Linked DNA regions of Homo sapiens: region 2 is linked to region 1. The links come from fine-mapping of genetic effects on gene expression. A gene starts in region 1. The other region holds a variant in brackets. All regions are shown on one strand. Distances are between the middles of the regions. Region 1 holds the start of CACNA1B (calcium voltage-gated channel subunit alpha1 B). Region 2 overlaps CACNA1B (calcium voltage-gated channel subunit alpha1 B).

Evidence for each region. PIP is the estimated chance that this variant, and not a neighbour inherited with it, causes the effect.
Region 2: its variant is fine-mapped to the expression of CACNA1B in thyroid (GTEx, PIP 0.98).

What each region holds. Positions count from the first base shown.
Region 1 is chr9:137,871,463-137,882,385 of GRCh38, forward strand. CACNA1B (calcium voltage-gated channel subunit alpha1 B) reads left to right here and starts at 6,320. Exons shown (of 47, transcript NM_000718.4): 1 at 6,320-6,755; 2 at 7,592-7,697. The coding sequence starts at 6,472. It overlaps CACNA1B-AS2 (CACNA1B antisense RNA 2), which reads right to left. Exons shown (of 4, transcript NR_121583.1): 3 at 4,001-4,218. RefSeq lists enhancers at 2,079-3,278, 6,513-7,428, 9,697-10,198.
Region 2 is chr9:138,018,222-138,029,144 of GRCh38, forward strand. CACNA1B (calcium voltage-gated channel subunit alpha1 B) reads left to right here. Exons shown (of 47, transcript NM_000718.4): 19 at 4,790-5,590; 20 at 6,734-6,951. Among named protein-coding and RNA genes, the nearest start is that of CACNA1B-AS1, 77 kb to the left of the region's middle. The variant G/C (reference allele first, on the strand shown) is at 4,718.

The DNA of each region.
Region 1 (10,923 bases):
GCAACATAGCCAAGCCTTGGCTCTATAAAAAATACAAAAATTAGCTGGGCATGGTGGTGCACACCTGTGGTCCCAGCTACTCGGGAAGCTGAGGTAGGAGGATTGCTTGAGCCCGGGAGGTGGAGGCTGCAGTGAGCTGAGATTGTGCTATTGCACTCCAGCCATTGCACTCCAGCCTGGGCGACAGAGTGAGAGCCTGTCTGAAAAAAAAAAAAAAATTCAAAGAAGAACCCAGGTAGAGGCATTAACCTTTTAATAAGACTTTTGTAATCAGTGCAGGGAGTATTGGCCCAGAGCAGGTGAAGAGTTCGTCTGAGCAGAGCAGAGAGCAGACAGTTGGGGCCCTTCTGTGAATGGTGTCATGACAATTTAATTATATTAAGATGATGAAAATGGCGCCTGCCTCACATCATACAGAAAAATCATTTGCAAGTGGTTTAAAATAGAAAAAGCAAAACTGCACAAATTTTAGAAGAGAATATAGGAGAATCTATTCTCAAATCTCCCAAAGAATCTCTCACAACAATGAACAAAGGAAGAATTTCCTAGGATTCAAAAAGCACAAAACATAGGGAAAAGCTGGATATATTTCGGTTACAGTATAATGAGGAACTTCTACATATCAAAAGAATCATGAAATAAGCAAAAGACAAATCACAGAGTGAGAGAAGATACTGCAACTATACACATCTGATGGAGGATTTGTGCCCAGAACATGTAAGGACTTCGACAAGTCAATCAGAAGGAGAGACAGAATCCAGTTGAAAAGTGGGTGGAAGATTTGAACAGGCGTTTTGGCAAAGGGGAAGACGTGAATGGGCAAGGAATGTGAGAAAATGCCCTACTCCATTAGTGAGCAGGAAAAAGCAGATTAAAACAGAGTGAGGGACCTGAAATGCCTACCAGACTGACAAAAACATGAAGGCTGATAACACTAGAGTGTTGGAGACAATGCCAAGCGAGCTAGGGTCTGTGTGGTGCTGCGGGACGGTCATCGCTGCACTTCGGGCCCTAAGTTAGCAGCATCCAGTGAGGTCGAGAGGCACGTCCCATGGCCCAGCAATTTCTCTCCTCGGGTTAGACCTGCAGGCTCTTGTCCAAGCACCAGGAGAATGACATTAAATGTTCATTGGAGAATTGAAATGGCAGGAATTGGACAGCAGCACAAATCTCCGTCAAAGTAGAATGGATCAATAAATTGTCACACGACAGACTAACATATGTGGTGAAAACAAGTGATTCACAGCTACACCCAACAACACAGTGCGCTGCAGCACCACAGGACGACAGCTTAGCTCTCTTGTGTGAATTTCAAAAGCATGGGACTGGGCGAGGTGGCTCACACCTGTAATCCCCGCACTTTGGGAAGCCCAGGTGGGCGGATTGCCTAAGCTCAGGAGTTCGAGACCAGCCTGGACAACATGGTAAAACCCTGTCTTCTATGAAAATACAAAAAATTAGCCAGTTGTGGTGGCGCACTCCTATAGTCCCAGCTACTCAGAGACTGAGGCACAAGAATTGCTTACACCCAGGAGGTAGAGGTTGTAGCAAGCTGAGATGGCACCACTGCACTCCAGCATGGGCAACAGATCGAGACTTTTTATTTTTTTTAAAAAGAAATGAATTTCAAAAGCATGTACAACTGCACAATAAATTGCACGTAGATGTACAGAGAGAAAGGGAACGGTGAACACAAAATTCTGGACAGTGATGACCTCTGAGATGCGGAAGTCCGGGAGGGGCTGCACCGTGCTTGGATGCTGGGATCCTCTGTGTCTTCCACAGAGCCCTAGTGCCTGTTATTATTTGTAGAATTAAATGTTAATTATATAAAAAGAAAAAAACCCTCCTAGTTCTCCTCCCCGCTTCCCCATAAGGGGACCCAGCACACAGTGACAGAGTTGAGATCTACAGGGGACATCGCAGGAACAACTGAAGAGGTGCTGGGCTTGCAGGTGCTGTGCTGGGAGGGTGGGGTGCAGGAGCCTAGTGTGGAGGGCGGCCGGGGTGTGGCTACAACCACCACCTCCCACCGCAAGGGCTGTGACCAACTTTGGGACCCCTGGAGGAGTTTCTGGGGAACCAGAGTGACACCAGTCTGTCCAATTTGTGACCTTCCCCAGTGGCGGGAGCCTGGGTGGGTGTCTCTGGAGGTTCCAGATGGGAATTCTGCCAGGTGAGAAAGAGGGTGAGGGAGTGAGGGATGGGGGTGGGGGACAGGGGGCAGCAGAAGGACTCTGAGGTTGGAGAGGGATGGGGGAGGGGCTGTGAGCAAGTGTGCTGGAGGGTCCGGAGGAAGATGGGACCCTCGAGGGGTGACAAGCTCGCTGGTCGTTGGCTTAGACACTGCAGCAGTGCCCACCACGCAGCCTGTCCTGGACTTAGTCACCCCCAGCTCCAGACTTGTCAACTCTACACATTTCTCTTGTGGATTCTCTTCCCTATAGCCCTGGATGAGCATTTCAAACCCTCTCCTCCCTCGCCAACCTGCAAATGCCCCCTTCTCACTCTCAGTTGCTTGTTTTGTTTCTTGTTTCACTGAGAAAGTAGAATAATCACAATAAAACCCTCATCCTCCCCCAAATGAATCCTCCAGCCCACCTGTGCCTGCAATCGTGCGACCCGCTTTTCTTTCCCTGCCTCGAGTGAGCTGTCCCAAGTCTGATGCCCTCTTGCCTGGACGAGGCAAGACACTCTTTTTCTTGCATCAGCAATTTTTCTTTCTGTTGAGTCATTGCCATCACATACGAAGTCCAATAATATCCCCTACCTTAAAAAACAAACAAACAAAAAACTCCTTAATGCTGCATCTGTGTTGTTCCCTGTCTCACTGGACAAGCTGTCTACACCTGCTGTAGGGACTTCCTCACCGAACGAGCTGTCTACACCTGCTGTAGGGATTTCCTCACCAACCGAGCTGTCTACACCTCCTGTAGGGACTTCCTCACCGACCGAGCTGTCTACACCTGCTGTAGGGACTTCCTCACCGACCGAGCTGTCTACACCTGCTGTAGGGACTTCCTCACCGACCGAGCTGTCTACACCTGCTGTAGGGACTTCCTCACCGACCGAGCTGTCTACACCTGCTGTAGGGACTTCCTCACCGACCGAGCTGTCTACACCTGCTGTAGGGACTTCCTCACCGACCGAGCTGTCTACACCTGCTGTAGGGACTTCCTCACCGACCGAGCTGTCTACACCTGCTGTAGGGACTTCCTCACCGACCGAGCTGTCTACACCTGCTGTAGGCACTTCCTCACCGACCGAGCTGTCTACACCTGCTGTAGGCACTTCCTCACTGGACGAGCTGTCTACACCTGCTGTAGGCACTTCCTCACTGGACGAGCTGTCTACACCTGCTGTAGGCACTTCCTCACTGAACGAGCTGTCTACACCTGCTGTAGGGACTTCCTCACCGACCGAGCTGTCTACACCTGCTGTAGGGACTTCCTCACCGACCAAGCTGTCTACACCTGCTGTAGGGACTTCCTAACTGAACAAGCTGTCTACACCCGCAGTAGGCACTGCCTCACTGACCGAGCTGTCTACACCCGCTATAGGGACTTCCTAACTGAACAAGCTGTCTACACCCACAGTAGGCACTGCCTCACTGACCGAGCTGTCTACACCCGCTATAGACACTTCCTCACTGACCGAGCTGTCTATACCTGCTGTAGGGACTTCCTCACTGAACGAGCTGTCTACACCTGCTGTAGGCACTTCCTCACTGAATGAGCTGTCTATACCTGCTGTAGGGACTTCCTCACTGAACGAGCTGTCTACACCCGCTGTAGGGACTTCCTCACAACTCATTCTCTTCAATCCGCCCCACTCGGGCTGCTCCTCTGTGGAAACTGCTGTCCGGGTGATGGGCACCTCTGTCTTTCCACTCTGATGGCTGAATGTCGGTCCTCATCTCTATGGACTACACGCACTCCTCCCTCAGCTCCGGGACAGGGCACTCCCCCGACCCCCCACAGCCCTGGCTGCTCCTCCTCACCGGCTTCATTCTTGGGGAGTGGCAGCATCCTCTGTCTCTGACTTCGGTCGCTTCCTCGGTGGTGATGCATCAGGCAGGATGACACTTGCAAGGGACCATCTACCACAATCTGTGCGATCTGTGCAAGGCGCAGGGAAGTCCCAAGGGCCAGGATTCACCATGCCTGCGTGATGCCATCCCCCGCTGGCAGGAACAAGGGGAGGACGCAGGAACTGGAACTGGAGAGAGAGAAAGGAGAGTGGTGGGTGCCTGACAGGGCCGGAGCTTCAATTGAGGTGCACAGCCAACCCTCGGTGACCTGGCAGGAGGAAGTCAGGGGAATAGTAGACACCTTGGCCTTGCTCTTTCCTTCCCTCAAGGGCCTTTGGTGCTCCTGTTGGGCTAGCATAACCAGAAACCACAGGTCAAGGAACAGGCTGATGTGGCTTTCAAAGGCCAGCTCCAGCGTCACGCAGCACGGAGGGAAGGGCAGAGCAGATGTGGCGAGCCCAGCCTCCAGGCGCAGGGCTGCAGCAGTGGCCTCTCGTCTTGGCATCCCTCGAGAAACTCCACCCCTGCATAGCATCTCCACTTCTGTCCCCAGTAGGCAATTCTTAATTTCCACCCTGTGACTAACAAGCTCTTCCCTCTGTCTTCCCCATCTCGGCAAAGGGCATCCCCCTCGACTCAGTCACTCAGACCAAAAATGAAGAGCCTGTGTTTCTATCTCTCCTTCACATTTACACTGGACGCACTCTCTCTAAGAGAAAGAGGCACTGCTCATGGCCCCCATGTTCAAACCACATCATCTCTCTCTGTGCTGCTGTCAAAACCCCTCCCTGGGCTCTGATTTTTCTCTGTGACAGGCCAGTTGGCAGCCTCCCCGACAGCCTTAGCACCTGCTTCCCAGCTAAGCGAACCCTGATTTTGTTTGGGGCAACTATGTGCTCGCCTAGTGGGGGCTGGCCATCCTGGTCCACTTTGACACATGTTCACTTTCCCACCCTGTTAAAGTCAGGGCCGGCCACATGGCCCATGGCCTAACGGGGTTAAAGAGACACTTGCAGGGGGAGCCTCTGAGAAGCTTTTCCTTTGTTAGAAAAGAAAATCGTAACCTGATTCACAAAGTGGTCATCCTTTGTACACCTGCCACTTCCTTCCCGTTTGAGATGCTGGTGTAGCGGTGTGATGCCCTGTGCTATGACAGCCACCCTGGGGCATGAGGCAACAGGCAGGAAGGCAGAAAGTGTATGTGGGGATTTTGGAGGGAGGAGAGATGGTGGCTTCGTATTCAGTGAGATCACAATGGCATCGTGCAAGCTGCTGCTAGCTGGGAAGCGGGTTGTTCGCCTCTGAATGCATCCTAAGTGATTCAGCACCCCAGCCTCCTGCAGTCCACACTCCACACGGCAGCCCGAGGGACCCTTCAGAGGCCTACGCGCCTCTGCTCGGAACTGTGCGGACTGCCTCCCTCTCAGAAGGCGCAGCCCGCACCCGGCCTCACTCTGCACTCAGCGCCTTGCGAGCGAGCTTCAGGTCCGAGAGGGTCCCTTGTTCCCGAAGGTCTCCCCGACCCCGGGGCCGCCTTTTTGGAGGTTGTGAGGACCCACGGGCCTGCACGAAGTGAGCGCTGTGTAAATGGTTGCTGTGCTTTGTACAAAACGGTCAGCTCCGTGAGGGCAGAGCTGGGAGCCCAGGACAGGCCCGGCCCGCGGTGGGCGCTCAAGGAGGCCTGGGGAATGGCAGTGACCGTGACAGGTTCCCTAACGGGGCGTGGCCTGCAAGGCGGTCAGAGGCTTCTCTGAGCTGAGATCCCGGAGCCAGCCCCGTGCGTGGAAACAGCAGGTCCCGCACCCGGGCTGGGGGCCCCCGACAGAAGCGTCCGCGTGGCACCAAGGCCGCGAGCCGAGCGCACCCGGAGGGTTGGGAAGGCCGGGGACCCGGCGGGGACGGGGCGGGCCGGCCCAGGCCTGGCGCCCAGCTCTGGGCTGCAGCCCCAGGGCTGGTGGCGCCTCCGGGCGGAGCGAGGGGTCCGTCTGGGCCGAGTTTGAGGAGCCGAGGGCACCCAGGGGCGGTGCGGCCGGCAGAGTGGGCTCCGGGGACGGCCCGGGCTGGCGCTGAGCGGCCGTCGAGGACCCACAGGCTCGTCCGCTCCTGGGCCCGGCCCAGCCCCGGGGTGGGAGGCGCGGGGCGAGGGAGGCGCAGCCGGAGGGGCCGGGGCGGGGCGGGGGCGGCCGCGGGGCGGGGCCGGCGCGGCAGGGTGGGCGGGGCCGGCGCGGATTGGCCGGGCCCCGCCACGTGACCGGCCCCTTATAGGGCGTGGCGCGGGGCCGCGGAGTCGGGTGAGGCGGCGGCGGCTGCGGCGGTGGGGCCGGGCGAGGTCCGCTGCGGTCCCGGCGGCTCCGTGGCTGCTCCGCTCTGAGCGCCTGGCGCGCCCCGCGCCCTCCCTGCCGGGGCCGCTGGGCCGGGGATGCACGCGGGGCCCGGGAGCCATGGTCCGCTTCGGGGACGAGCTGGGCGGCCGCTATGGGGGCCCCGGCGGCGGAGAGCGGGCCCGGGGCGGCGGGGCCGGCGGGGCGGGGGGCCCGGGTCCCGGGGGGCTGCAGCCCGGCCAGCGGGTCCTCTACAAGCAATCGATCGCGCAGCGCGCGCGGACCATGGCGCTGTACAACCCCATCCCGGTCAAGCAGAACTGCTTCACCGTCAACCGCTCGCTCTTCGTCTTCAGCGAGGACAACGTCGTCCGCAAATACGCGAAGCGCATCACCGAGTGGCCATATCCTGCCGGGCGGGGCCGGGCGGGGCCGGGCGGGGACCGGGGTGGGGGCCGGGGCCGGGGCCATCTTCCCGGTGGCCGGGAGGGCGCGACCTGGGGAGGCGTCGGGAGACGGGCGAGGGGGGTACGGAGCGCCCCAGGGCCCCTCGGAGCGGCGGGTGCGGGAGCATTTCCGTGAGTGCGGCGGGCGCGGGGCGGAGCCCCTCTGCTCCGGACTCGTCCCTCCGCACGCCGGGTCCTGGGGATCCTGGTCGGTGCACAGTGCGCGGCTAGCCTGGAGGGCACCGAGGGCGAAGCCGCGTCCGTGCAGGTGCGAGCGCTGTGGGGACGCGGCCGTGCGCGCGCCTGGCTGCAGGTGCCTGCGTGTGCGGGCTGAGCTGGAGCCTGGCGCTGCGCGTGCGTGCGCTCGCGATGCGGGCTACATGCATGTTCACGTGCCTGTGTAGGTACATGTGGCTGCGTGTCTGGAGGGAGCAGCGTGCGCCTGCGCGGGGTCTCCCTCCAGCCTCGCCTGGGGGCGCTCGGCCCCCTCCCCTCGGGGCCCTGGAGTCGGGCGGAGCCGGGCCGGAGGCGCTGTCCGCGGTGCTGACGGCCGCCCGGGTGTGCCGAGGGGCTGGCGGCCCAGACTGCGGAGGCCCCGCCTCGCGGCCGCCCCTAGGGATGGGGGCAGGGAGTGAGGGAGACCAGGCCGCTTCCGCCAGGAGAGGGGCTCCGGACCCAGTTGTCTCAGCCCCTCCGGAGACGGCCTAGCGGTGGCTGCTGCACTGGGCTCTGCTGGCGTCGGCCTCGTGTTTCCCTCCGTGCGGCGTCTGCCGGCCAGTCCTTAACTCACGCACTCCATTCGAGTATATGATCCTGGCCACCATCATCGCCAACTGCATCGTGCTGGCCCTGGAGCAGCACCTCCCTGATGGGGACAAAACGCCCATGTCCGAGCGGCTGGTGAGTGCCCGGCTGGGCCTGAGGGCAGGGTGGTGGGGAGGCCGCGACTCCACTTTCCTTTATGGTCTGTGCCTGAGAACAGCTTCCTCGGGCAGGGTCGTCTGGGCAGTGCCCCTCGCGTCTGAAGGAAAAGGTAGGCCTGGCAGATAACACCTTCCTCGAGGGCCAGGGCAGCTGGGGTCACCGGCTTAGCCCTGGGCGTGGCCACGTTAGCCCTGGGCCAGTCTGCCCTGTGCCACGAGCTACTCCTGCACCTCAATGGCTGTCCTGGCTTTCGGCGCTAGACTTTGATCCAGAAAACCATGTTCTAAACTTGGGGTGGGGAAGGGGCATTCATGTCTTCGGGAAGGTCAGCTCTGAATGCCATGTGTGCCCTGCTGGGCTGAGATGGGCTTTGGCCTGGATGTGGGAACCCTGAGCCTCATCCTCCAAGTTGTCTTGTGCGGGCCTGCTTGGAACCTCTTCTCCAGTGGGCCTCACCATCCTGTGGGAAGCATTCCTTCTCAAACATTCTGAATCATTTTTACCTGTCCCCAGATTCCAGCCAAGAGGCCCCCGTGGTAGCCCCCATTGGAGCATAGAGTCTGTGTGAGTCAGGGTGCCAGGGCAAGGTCTCCGTGGCTCAACAGGAGGCAAGGTGGAAGGCCAGCCCTGTGGGGTCTCTGGAGGGGCTGGGTCAGAGGAAGGGCAGCATTTTGGAGGTGAGCAGTTTCTGAGGTCAGAGCATGTCCCCCAGCCCCCACTCTTCCCTGATGCCTGGCCCCATGTCTGGGTTCCGAGTGTGCCTAAAGACTGGAGCCTCCAGGTGAGCAGAAGGCAGAGCAAGTGGGGGCCCAGGGGGTGCGGGGCCAGAGGCGTCCAGGAGACGGCCTCTCTGGGGTGTCAGGAGCTGCTCCCTCTTCCCTTAAGCCTGGCTTCCGCCCCCACTAGCATCCTGAGACAAGAGCTATTCAGACTTTAGCCCTGAAACTGAACTCCCTTTGAACCTGGGCCACCGCAGGCCCAGGAGTGCAGAAGGGGAGACAGGGAGCCTGTCCTGGAGGTGAGGCACCAGGAGGTGAGTTATGGGTGGCCGAGGTGAGGAGGTCTTAATGGAGCACAGTCTGGAATGCCCAGTGGTCTGGGTTACGGCCGGGTGAGGAGGAGGAGCATGGACAGCCCAGCCACACCATGAGGCAGGCGTGAGTCATGGTCCCTGTGGGGGACTTGGGCAGGACCCTGGTGGGGCCCATTGCTTTCTGGAGGCTGGAGAAGAGGGTGAGCTTGAGAGGAAACAGGCAGAGAGCCTTGAATGCCAAGTCACAGGAAGGAGGGCAGGGCCAGGGTCAGAGGGACGCAGGCCCAGGAGCCAGGCCGGGGCGGGGGCAGGGAGGATCAAGCTGTCTTGCCCTGCCAGGCAGTGGGTGTCCAGCCTTGCAAGTTCCTGCCTCGCAGGTGTGGGAGGGTTTACTTTGTGGTCATAGGTTGGGGAGGACACTTCTAGGAGTGGCGAGCTAACCTGTTGGGAAAACTGCAGAACATGCCCGCCCTGAGCCAGCCTAGAGGTCTGGGGAGCTCTTGACCAGTCCCAGTCCCATGTGCAGGCCCAGCCATTGATGTCCCCTGGGATGGAGGGGAGGCTGTGCTGCTGCCCACAGAGCAGGCCGAGGCTGGGTGGTGCAGGGGCAGCCCCTCAGTTGTCTCCCAGCCTGGCCCTGGGCGAGGCCTCCCTGGTTCCCTGCCTCTCGGGGCTGTTTCCCACCTCCCCGTCGACTCTGGAGCTACCTCGAGCCAGGCCCCAGCTTGCAGTGCAACACCAAGCTGCCTGCACACCCATCCCTCCCACCTAAGCCAGCCTTCAGCCATGGGCTGGGCAGGGCAGAGCTGTGAGGAGAGGGCTCGGGCTGGGGGCTCCTTCCCAGCTGAGGGTGCTGGCTGGTCCTTCCTAGGCGTCGGGCCTGTTCTCTTTTTCACCAGGAAGTTTCCTGTGAAGATCTCTGTCTGCTGCGGCCCCACTGTTCCCCTGGGGCAGATGGTCAGCAACCCCACCCCTTGGGAAAAGGGGTCCCTCCTAAACAAATCAGACCAGAAGGCTCGAGGCCAGGAAGAGCATGGGCGAGTCAGCACGGGTCATGATGGACCCTTGGGTGCTGGTAGCTTCTACCAGGTACTGCCAGCCAAGCCTTGGGCCAGCTCCACCACAGGACAGGAGGAGCCCAGGCTGAGTAAGGTGGGAGTCAGATGCGGAGAGCCCTCGAGAGCCTGGCTTCCTGGGGAGGAAGGCACAGGCTGTGGAACTGGTGGCACTCACCTCACCTGGCAGCTCTGTGGCAGCCCAGCAGCTGCTTCTTCCTGTGACTTCCACAGTCCTGAAGACGAACCCTCAGGGGAGGCCCTTGAAGCTGGTCTCCTCTCCCCACCCCTTCACCTGCTTCCTAAGGCAGCAGCCCTGGAGTGCAGGTGTCCGACACCCCCATGCCAACCCTGCACATGCAGCTCCCTCAGCCCAGCTTCCCGGGCTTGCCTTGCACAGGGCCTTTCCCTGCCAGCCCCACGCGTGTGCTCACGAGGAGTCTTTGGGGTCTCCCTAAGCTCCACACAGCCCCATCTCCACCCTGTTTGCTGCTTCCAGCTCGGCACTGGTAGGGCCTGGCTCTGCTCTCTCATGTCCAGTAACTGTTGGCTGGAGCTCAGCCTGGGGTGCAGGAAAGGGATCTTTTTAGGATCAGCTGTCTTCATTCCTTTGGCTGCTCTGTTCCCTCCACCTGGATCCCTTTCTCAAAATCGAGCTGTGGAAGCCTTGCCTGCAGGCGCCACGCCCTCTGGGAGGCTCCCTGCGGTCTGAGCCCAGGGTGGCTCCCAGCTTCAGGCTCAGACTGTGGCTGGCTGCCTCCAGGGTCCTCACAGATGTGGCGGTCGTCGCTCAGCACACTCAGGGCTGAGGTTGTGCTTCTCATTTCTGTTGTTTTCTGCCGAGATGTGCATGTTCTGGTTACCCGGGTGCATGTTGAATGCATAAACGGGGCCTGGACTGAGTTCAAGAAAGCCTGAGCTGTATCCAGGCAACCTTGTGCAGGTTCCCACCCAGAGGCTGCTGTGGCCTCTGCCTGGCTCCTGGGCATCTCTGTGCCTCTGTCTCCCACATGTTAGAATGGGGATGACCTCATGGGGTATTAAAGGGCCACCCTAGTTGATAAAGGAAAAACTACCTGATAAGCACCCACAACTAGTACTGTTACATCACTGT
Region 2 (10,923 bases), 150 kb after region 1:
GGAAGTGGCCAGGTGCAGTTAGGCCACCTGCCCTGATGGAAGTGGCCAGGTGCAGTTAGGCCACCTGCCCTGATGGAAGTGGCCAGGTGCAGTTAGGCCACCTGCCCTGATGGAAGTGGCCAGGTGCAGTTAGGCCACCTGCCCTGATGGAAGTGGCCAGGTGCAGTTAGGCCACCTGCCCTGATGGAAGTGGCCAGGTGCAGTTAGGCCACCTGCCCTGATGGAAGTGGCCAGGTGCAGTTAGGCCACCTGCCCTGATGGAAGTGGCCAGGTGCAGTTAGGCCACCTGCCCTGATGGAAGTGGCCAGGTGCAGTTAGGCCACCTGCCCTGATGGAAGTGGCCAGGTGCAGTTAGGCCACCTGCCCTGATGGAAGTGGCCAGGTGCAGTTAGGCCACCTGCCCTGATGGAAGTGGCCAGGTGCAGTTAGGCCACCTGCCCTGATGGAAGTGGCCAGGTGCAGTTAGGCCACCTGCCCTGATGGAAGTGGCCAGGTGCAGTTAGGCCACCTGCCCTGATGGAAGTGGCCAGGTGCAGTTAGGCCACCTGCCCTGATGGAAGTGGCCAGGTGCAGTTAGGCCACCTGCCCTGATGGAAGTGGCCAGGTGCAGTTAGGCCACCTGCCCTGATGGAAGTGGCCAGGTGCAGTTAGGCCACCTGCCCTGATGGAAGTGGCCAGGTGCAGTTAGGCCACCTGCCCTGATGGAAGTGGCCAGGTGCAGTTAGGCCACCTGCCCTGATGGAAGTGGCCAGGTGCAGTTAGGCCACCTGCCCTGATGGAAGTGGCCAGGTGCAGTTAGGCCACCTGCCCTGATGGAAGTGGCCAGGTGCAGTTAGGCCACCTGCCCTGATGGAAGTGGCCAGGTGCAGTTAGGCCACCTGCCCTGATGGAAGTGGCCAGGTGCAGTTAGGCCACCTGCCCTGATGGAAGTGGCCAGGTGCAGTTAGGCCACCTGCCCTGATGGAAGTGGCCAGGTGCAGTTAGGCCACCTGCCCTGATGGAAGTGGCCAGGTGCAGTTAGGCCACCTGCCCTGATGGAAGTGGCCAGGTGCAGTTAGGCCACCTGCCCTGATGGAAGTGGCCAGGTGCAGTTAGGCCACCTGCCCTGATGGAAGTGGCCAGGTGCAGTTAGGCCACCTGCCCTGATGGAAGTGGCCAGGTGCAGTTAGGCCACCTGCCCTGATGGAAGTGGCCAGGTGCAGTTAGGCCACCTGCCCTGATGGAAGTGGCCAGGTGCAGTTAGGCCACCTGCCCTGATGGAAGTGGCCAGGTGCAGTTAGGCCACCTGCCCTGATGGAAGTGGCCAGGTGCAGTTAGGCCACCTGCCCTGATGGAAGTGGCCAGGTGCAGTTAGGCCACCTGCCCTGATGGAAGTGGCCAGGTGTCCTGTCCCTGTCCTAGTGGTGGTGAGGCCCCTGCCGCCCCCGCCCTGCCCAGTGCTTCCTTGCTGGCAGCCAGCATGGAGCTGGGCTCAGTCTTTCCACGAGCACTGTTTGCTGCTGGCTGTCAGAGGCACTGATGTCTCCTGGGGCAAGAAAGCATGCTGGATCCTGCATCCATCCGCGGGGTGGAATAAGATGTAAGATGCAGATGGTGGCCGGGCGCGCTGGCTCACACCTGTAATCTAGCACTTTGGGAGGCTGAGGTGGGCGGATTCCCTGAGCTCAGGAGTTCGAGACCAGCCTGGGCAACATGGTGAAACCCTGTCTCTACTAAATACAAAAAATTAGCCGTGAGTGGTGGCGGGCGCCTGTAGTCCCAGCTACTCGGTAGGCTGAGGCAGGAGAATTGCTTGAACCCGGGAGGCAGAGGTTGCAGTGAGCCGTGATCACACCACTGCACTCCAGCCTGGGCGACACAGCGAGACTCTGTCTCCCAAAAAAAAAAAAAAAAAAAAATGCAGATGGCAGGTATCCATGGTGTCACACCAGGGCTGCTTCATATTGTCAGCAGTTCCGGGTTGTCTGAGCCCAGAGACCTCAAAGCAGGGCCACAGAGCGCCTTGAGGCCACTTCCAAGTCCTGTAGTTCCCCACAGCACCCAGCTGAGCATGGCTGAGCCCTCCTCCCTGGAACAGCTGGGTTGTGCCTACCAGCTGAGGCCAGGACACAGGGGTGCCAGTCGTCCATGTGACTTCCTTAAAGAACCCTTTTAAACCAGGACTTTGCCTGGATTAATCACCAGCCACACTTCACTCTAAGTTGGTGTGGATATGTGCCAGATAGAGCAAGGACAGAGACAGGGGCCAGGGGAGGTGCAGGCTGACTTAAGACACCATGCAGAGAGGCCCGGCACGCAGATTCAGAGACCTAGGGGATACCTCCAGAGAGGAACTTGGTGGTGCTGGCCGAGTGAGGGCAGATGCAGACAGTCTCTGGTGACGTTAGGGCTGACAGTGGCAGATAGGCCCGGAAGGAACAGGCCAGGTGGAACCAGTGGGGCTGCGGGGGGCGGGCAGGTGCCCTAGCGTAGGCTGCTCAGCATGTTGCTCTGCCTGGGTGGTCACGGGGGAGCCTGCCAGCCTGACAGCGCCCTCAGCCCAGCAGACAGCCTGGCCTTTCCCTGCTCCAGGTGTTTCCTGGGCGAGAAGGAGCCACACCTGAATGCAAGGGTGAGGGCAGAGCTATATGGTCTGGAGCCCACCCCACCTTCACACAGACCCTGTGCCTCTGCATGTTCCCCATGGTCCTCACTGCCTGTCTTTTTGGAACTGCAATGCTGGTCCCCAAGATTCACGGCTTCATCAGAGCGGGCCACCCTGCTGACCAAGTGGCTCAGAGCCCAGGCCCCTCTCGGGCACTGGAGTGGACTGGGAGGCTTGAGGCAGTGAACAGCCTCCGCCCTCACAGGGCTCCTGTGCCTGGTGCAAGCCCCTGGGGCTGCCTTCTGTTTTACACCACTCAGCACTGTTGGCAGTAGAGCCCTTTTGTCTTGGTCCCAGCTGGGGTTGGTGGGTCTTCTGTGGGTCAGTTGTAGGGCACCCCTGGGAGCAGGGGCAGCACAGTTTAAATGCATCAGGGATACAGGTCAGGGCCTGGGGCTTCAACTGAGGCTGGGGGTCTGCAGACGGCCCCTACAGGTAGCCCTGCCTGCCCCCACCCCACCCAAGCTCCCAGGTGAGACACAGACACCACACTTCCGCTTTCATTCGTGCAAAGTGCTGCCCCTGGACATTGCTCCCACTGCAGCCTGGACTTCTACAAAGGGGCAGGATTTATTGTTCACCTGCCTGGGGTGGGCCGGCTGCAGGGACTGGGCTTTCCCACATCTGGCTGCTCTGTCTTTGCAGGTCAGAGTGGTGCTCAGCGGCTCAGGGCCCCGGAGCTGGTGGCCGCCGGCCTGGGCCTCTGCAGGCCGTGGTTGTAGCCTGTGTTGTTAGTGCAGTTGGGGTCTGGCCAAGGACTCGTGTCTTCTTTAGAAATGTTTTTCCTTTTTGCCCTTGCCTGTGTCTGATCCTGACTCACTGTGGGACCCTGAGCAAGTAACATCCTCTCTCTAGGCTCAGTATCTTCATCTGTGAAATGGGGACAAGAGTAGCACCTGATTCTTGAGGTGGTTGTAAGGACTGGATGAAGTGGGCACTGCGCCCAGAGCACCACGTGGCAGTTGCAGGACACAGATGCCATGGCCCTCATTGTTGGTGTAGTCACTGCTGCCGCCAAGGCCATCCAGCAGCCTTGGAGGCTCCAGGGCGGGCCTCTGGCCTCAGATGAGGTTTCTCCCTGGCGATGGTGGGGCTTAGTTTTGGGATAATAAGACCTTATCCAAAGGTGGTCTTACTCAGCAGAAGGCCCAGAATGCAAAGGGCTTCCTGTGCACTCTGGGCTATGGAGCCCCATGTGTGATGTGTGAATAGAGGAGGTGCTTGGGCCCATGACATTGGAGTAGGGGTCAAGGCCTTCGGTAGCCCATGCAGTGAGGGCCGAGCCTGGACCACTGGCCATCCCTGGTGCTGGAGGGCTCCGAGGACCATGTTCTGGCTCTGCTCCCAGTAGAGGGAGGGGCTCTCCATGGAGTCAAGAGAGAGGAGGGCATTGGTGGCCACGGGAGGTGGCATTTCCAGCTTCAGACCTGACTTCTGGGCTCCTGGTCACTGAGCCAGGGGGCAGCTGCGGGGCTGCGGCTGACCACCTCGGGGACTGGCAGAGGCTCTGCGTTTGCTCCTGAAAGGGCCAGGTGCTCCCTTGGCTGCTGTCTGCTCTGCCACAGCAACTGCCCTCTGGGTTCCCTGGCAAACAGCCTTTTCACCTGGCTGGTGGCCTGCCTCCTGGAGGCAGCGATGGGGAAGTGCCTCTGGAGAAGGGGCCGCGTGTCCCGCCCTTCCTGTAGCAGCTGTGCTGGTGCTGCAGCAGGGGCCAGCTCCCAGGGAGGCTACAGGGCCTCCCTGGCTCCTGCCTCTCCATCCGTCCTGCCCTTTGTAACATGCCCTTCCCTCCCGCGGTGGCCTTCCTGGCCAGCCGCCCACCCACCTGCTTGGCCTGTCTGGTGCATTCCCACTGTCCTGTACCCCTCGGCCTCCTTGAGCCCCCCAGGGTCCTCCTGACAGGCTGGTGCTTTCACCTTGCGGGTCCTGTGGGACACCGTGGGGGGGGGGGGCGGCGGGGCTGAATTCGGTTCCCTTGGGCGTTCCCCACCTGATCCGCGTCCCCCGAGGGGTGTGGGGGCTCCCGCGGCCACGCCTCCCACCTCCCTGCGCCATTACTCCATTGCTGTGTGT[G/C]CATTGTGGCCTCCCTGGAGAGCGGCGGGCGGGCGGCAGACGGGGCCGCGCTCACCGCCAGTCTCCCCGCAGCAGGCAGCAGAACTCGGCCAAGGCGCGCTCGGTGTGGGAGCAGCGGGCCAGCCAGCTACGGCTGCAGAACCTGCGGGCCAGCTGCGAGGCGCTGTACAGCGAGATGGACCCCGAGGAGCGGCTGCGCTTCGCCACTACGCGCCACCTGCGGCCCGACATGAAGACGCACCTGGACCGGCCGCTGGTGGTGGAGCTGGGCCGCGACGGCGCGCGGGGGCCCGTGGGAGGCAAAGCCCGACCTGAGGCTGCGGAGGCCCCCGAGGGCGTCGACCCTCCGCGCAGGCACCACCGGCACCGCGACAAGGACAAGACCCCCGCGGCGGGGGACCAGGACCGAGCAGAGGCCCCGAAGGCGGAGAGCGGGGAGCCCGGTGCCCGGGAGGAGCGGCCGCGGCCGCACCGCAGCCACAGCAAGGAGGCCGCGGGGCCCCCGGAGGCGCGGAGCGAGCGCGGCCGAGGCCCAGGCCCCGAGGGCGGCCGGCGGCACCACCGGCGCGGCTCCCCGGAGGAGGCGGCCGAGCGGGAGCCCCGACGCCACCGCGCGCACCGGCACCAGGATCCGAGCAAGGAGTGCGCCGGCGCCAAGGGCGAGCGGCGCGCGCGGCACCGCGGCGGCCCCCGAGCGGGGCCCCGGGAGGCGGAGAGCGGGGAGGAGCCGGCGCGGCGGCACCGGGCCCGGCACAAGGCGCAGCCTGCTCACGAGGCTGTGGAGAAGGAGACCACGGAGAAGGAGGCCACGGAGAAGGAGGCTGAGATAGTGGAAGCCGACAAGGAAAAGGAGCTCCGGAACCACCAGCCCCGGTGAGTCCGCGGCTGGGCGGGGTCAGGGAGGGAAGGGTTGGCCGGGGCGGCGCGGGCCCCAGCGGTGGCTGCGGCCATGGGGTCCACGGCGGAGGCTGCAGCCCCGGCCACGCTGCCATGTCCAGAGCCGTCGGGGCTGGGGTCTCTGCATGCCGTTCACGTGGGGTGGTGACAATCCTGCCTTGCAGGGTTGACCTGTAAAAGGCTTGGCAGGGCGTGTATGCTCCGTAAAAGGCTTGGCAGAGTGTTTGTGCTCCGTGAATGCCAGCCGTTATTTAAGAAGGGAGGGCTTAAGGGGGAATTGTTGCGACTGGCTTGGAAAGAACAAAGTGGCCCTGGGAGAAGAGAAAGTTGGGGATTGCAGTGGAGGAAGGAGAGGCAGAAGGGCCCAAGGGAAGCCTGAGCAGGCCAGTGGGCTGGGCGCAGAGCGGGGTGTGGGGGCCAGGCTGTGTGACCATGACAGAAAGAACCCCAGCTAGCCCAGCTTGCTCCCTGGGGCAGGACTCACCAACCCCGTGAGGGCCTGGGGTAACAGTGGTCCAGTGGCCAAGACCAGCAGTCGCCAGGTACCCACTGGCCACAAACCAACCAGAATACTTGCCGCTGGAGGCCCCAGCCCAGGGTCAACCCAGCCGCCGCCCTGTCTTTGTGTGTGGGTGGGTCAGCCCCATCCCTGCCTTTCGGACTAAAGACACGGAGGTGTATAGAGTAATTTAAAAAACGTACAGAAGGCCAGAGTAGCAGAGCAGGTGGTTATGGATTTAGTTGGTCTGCATGGAGGCTTAAGGGTTTTGGTTGATAGGATTTTGCTGATGTGCATTATTATTATTATTATTGGAGACAGGACCGCACTGTCGCCCAGGGTGGAGTGCAGTGGCGCAATCATGGCTCACTGCAGCCTCAACTTCCCGGGCTGAAGCGATCCTCCCACCTCAGCCTTCCCAGCCTGAATAGCTGGGACTACATGCACGTGTCACCACGCCCAGCTAATTTTTTAATTTTTGTAGAGATGGGGTTTCGCCATATTCCCCAGGCTGGTCTTGAACTCCTGGGCTCAAGTGATCCTCCTGCCTCTGCCTCCCGGTGCCGGGATCACAGGTGTGAGCCACTGCGCCGAGGCCTGATGTACATTCTTGATTGCAGGGAGCCACACTGTGACCTGGAGACCAGTGGGACTGTGACTGTGGGTCCCATGCACACACTGCCCAGCACCTGTCTCCAGAAGGTGGAGGAACAGCCAGAGGATGCAGACAATCAGCGGAACGTCACTCGCATGGGCAGTCAGCCCCCAGACCCGAACACTATTGTACATATCCCAGTGATGCTGACGGGCCCTCTTGGGGAAGCCACGGTCGTTCCCAGTGAGTATCTCCCTGTGCCAGTGGGGCAGGGCCCATCTTGTGCAGGTCCAGCAACCCCCATTCCCTCCTGCTCCACAGCAGCCACTGGGGACCCAGCCTACCTCTGTGAATTGTTCTCCTGGCTGGAGAGAGAGTCCTTTGCTGTCAACATCTGTCCCTTGATGTCCTGTTGATTTCTAGTGCCCCAGAGATAACTGAGGTTGAGCTCCATTCTCCTTCCTTCCCAAAATATTTGCACGTTGCCAACTAAGTGCCAGGTGCTGTGTTAGAGTGCTGAGAGCATAGTAGGAGGGAGACAGTCTTGTCAGGAAGACAGACCACAAAACAGGCACAACTCTTGATGGTTGCACAAAAGCTGCTGGCTGAGGACTCTGTCCACGGCCTTGACTGGGGCTGAGAGCGAGGGGCTGCAGAGGAGGAGGCTCTCCACTGCGTCTGCCCATTTGTTCATGGGCCTGTGCCATCCCTGCTCTGAGGCTGTGCTCCCAGGCCTTTATTTGAGCTGCCTTCTTTCCTCCCCTTGCTCACTCACATGCTCGGAACAGCCTTTCCATGCCTGCCTGTGTGCAGTCCCTGAGGGCACAGGGGACCAAGATGTCATTCCTGTCTTGAAACCTGTCTAATAGGGAGAGATCTGCTGGTTACAAATACAGGCCCCTTACGTGGTGGGGAAGGTGCATGGGCGTTTCATGGGCATCAAGGAGGAGCCCTCCTTTCTTAAGTACAGAGAAAAAAGGGGTAGAAGAGAGGCCATAGAAACAGGACTCACATGAATGCCAGCAGAAGCATTTAGGTCTTAAGCAGACCAGACGGACTCAATCAGGTGCCACCACATGCATGCCCATGTTTGCAGACGGATCTCCACACACAGATGTGTGCATGTCCGTGTTTGCAGATGCATCCGCACACACAGACGTGTGCGTGCCCATGTTTGCAGACAGATCTCCAGACACACACATGTGCATGACATTCTCTCTTGCTCAGGTGCTCTCACCTGGGGCCTGTGGACTGGCGCACAATTCCAGGTATAACCATGGAAGACACAGCCTCTAACTGCTCAGCCTCCCCTTTTCCTTTGCTTCCTTGGAGGAAAGTTGCCCTTGGTTCATTTTCTTGTTCACTTCCCATGGGCACAAGTGAGTCTGCCTGCCCAGCTCCCTCACCTGATTCTCTGTGGATCAGCTTGAGGATGAGCCTAGGTTCCCTACCTGGCTTTTATCTGCAGGAATCCAGATGTGACTCCTCCCCAGGCTCCCTATGCTCTTCCCCACACCCCTGTTGGCAACCACTGATTTTTTCACTGTCCCTATAGTTTTGCCTTTTCTAGACTGTCATAGGGTTGGAATCATACAGTATGCAGCCTTTTCAGATTGGCTTCTTTCCATTAGCAATATGCACTTAAGTTTCCTTTGTGTCTTTTTGTGGCTTGACAGCTCATTTGTTTTAAGCGTTGGATTAATAGTCTGTCTTTTGGGCATACCACAGTTTATTTATTCACCTATTGAAGGACATCTTGTTGCTTCCAATTTTTGGCAATTATGAATAAAACTGCTTTAAACATTCATGTTCAGGTTTTTGTGTGGACATAAGTTTTCAACTCATTTGGGTAAATACTTAATAGCATGCTTATTGGATTATATGGTAAGACTGTTTATCTTTATAAGAAACTGACAAACTATCTTCCAAAGGGACTGTACCATTTTGCATTCCCACCAGCAATGAATGAGAGTTCCTGTTGCTCCACATCCTTGCCAATATTCAGTGTTGTCAGTGTTTTGGATTTGAGTTATTCTAATTAAGCGTGTAATGATATCTTGTTTATTTTGCAATTTCCTAATGACATATGACGTTGAGCATCTTTTAATGTGCTTATTTGCCATGTGTATAATTTTCTTTGATGAGATTCCTATTCAAATCTTTTACCCACTTTTTATTCTGGCTGTTTGTTTTCTAGTTGTTGAGTTTTAGGAGTTCTTTGTATATTTTGGATACAAGTCTTTCATCAGATATGTGTTTTTGCAAGCATTTTCTCCCATTTTGTGGCTTGGTTTTTCATTCTCTTAATGTCTGGTGTTTTCGATTGCTAAAAACAACTGATTGTCTGGTCCCTATTATTACTTCTACTAGAAACAGAAATCTAGGCTATTAGTTTTTATATGTTGATTATGTATCCTGCTACTTTTCTGAATCCTCAAATTGTTTATTAGTTTCACTGATTCCCCCTTTTTTTCCGAGATATATTATCAAAACTTCTGCAAATATACTTCTAACTCTTTCTAAGTCTTACACCACTCATTATTATTTTTTTGTCTGATTTCACTATCAGATAACAATGGAATTACTGGGCATTACCTTGTTTCCGCCTACATTAAATAAAATTTTGGTTTGGGGCCTGAGGGATGTGTGTGTGTGTCTGTTTGTGTGTGTGTAAAATTATGTTGTGGTATCCATTAGTTCCTACTTCAGTAAGTGTTTTTATCTGGAATAGATGTTGAATTTTCTTGAAGACCTTTTCAGCATCCATAGAGATCATATATTTTTTTCTCCTTAGATATGGGGATTTATAGTAATGAATTTTTTGATATGAAATATCTTTGCAATCTTAGAATAAATCCAAGTGGTTATTATATTTATTTTGTAATATGCCATTGGATTCTCTTTAACATTTTTTGTAGGATTTTTGGATTGATATTTTTAAGCGAGATGTGTTCTGTAGCTTTCTTTTGTCACATTTGAGGATCATAAGGTTTAAATATCAATGACATAGAGTTATCTATTGCTTAACTTCACAGCTCCATTCCTGAAAATCAAATGTTCTAAAAGAGGGTCTCATTTCCACTCCCCCCCAACCTTTTTTTTTTTTTTTTTTTTTTTTTTTTGAGACTGAGCCTTGCTCTGTCACCCTGGCTGGAGTGCAGTGGCACGGTCTCGGCTCTGCCTCCCAGGTTCAAGCAATTCTCCTTCCTCAGCCTCTCGAGTAGCTGGGATTACAGGCGCCCACCACCACACCTGGCTAATTTTTGTATTTTTAGTAGAGATAGGGTTTCGCCGTGTTGGCCAGGCTGATCTTAAACTCCTGACCTCAAGTGATCCACCTGTCTTGGCCTCCCGAAGTGCTGGGATTACAGGCGTGAGCCACCGTGCCTGGCCCCATTATTTTAAATGGTAAAACATTATAATGTGTTATGTGTCCGCTAAAAATTCCTAACCGATTTTGTAAAATATAAAGCACAGATAAACAATGAAAACTAATAAACAGTCATAATAGAACATAAAATGCTTCACATATTGTTTCCTGATTACCAGTTAAAATAGCTAGTAATAAGCAATTGCTTTAGATACCTCCTTTATTGAAACTTGTACTTTTCAAAAACATCCATACGATTCCCATAACTTACTGTGAACAAAAGTTCTCTGAAAAGGAGTTTGGAGGAAACAGGCTTTATTCTAGTGAATAGTTTGCAAACCAGGAAGATGCAGCCTTCCTTGTAAAATGAAGGCGCATTCCAGAGGAGAAAGAGAAGTTTTGACATTTCCTGCCCAGGTGCTTAATCAAGTCCCTTTATGCAAATGAAGGATTCAGACTTGCTTGGTCTGATTGGTTGACACAGCTGAGTTCTGATTGGTCCATATAGCTGAGCTCTGATTGGCTGAGGCAAGTGAACTCTGATTGGTTGGTTCAGGTGAGCTCTAAAAGTTCCCAGAGTTAAAAAGGTGTGGGTTTTCTGGGACCTCTATTCAGCATATGGCTGCTTCTCTCTGACTTAAATGTAGGCTCAGTTAGCCACTTGGGATCCATCTTGAAGGATTAGCTCTTTCAGGTTTCTTCACACAACCAACTGAATTTGGAATCCTGCCTGAGAGTTGTTCCCCACATTATTTTGTTAAAAACATTATATTGACTTTTGGGCATGTATACTTTTTTTTAACATAAATGTCAGCCAGAAAAGTCAACAACACTGTAATGAAAGA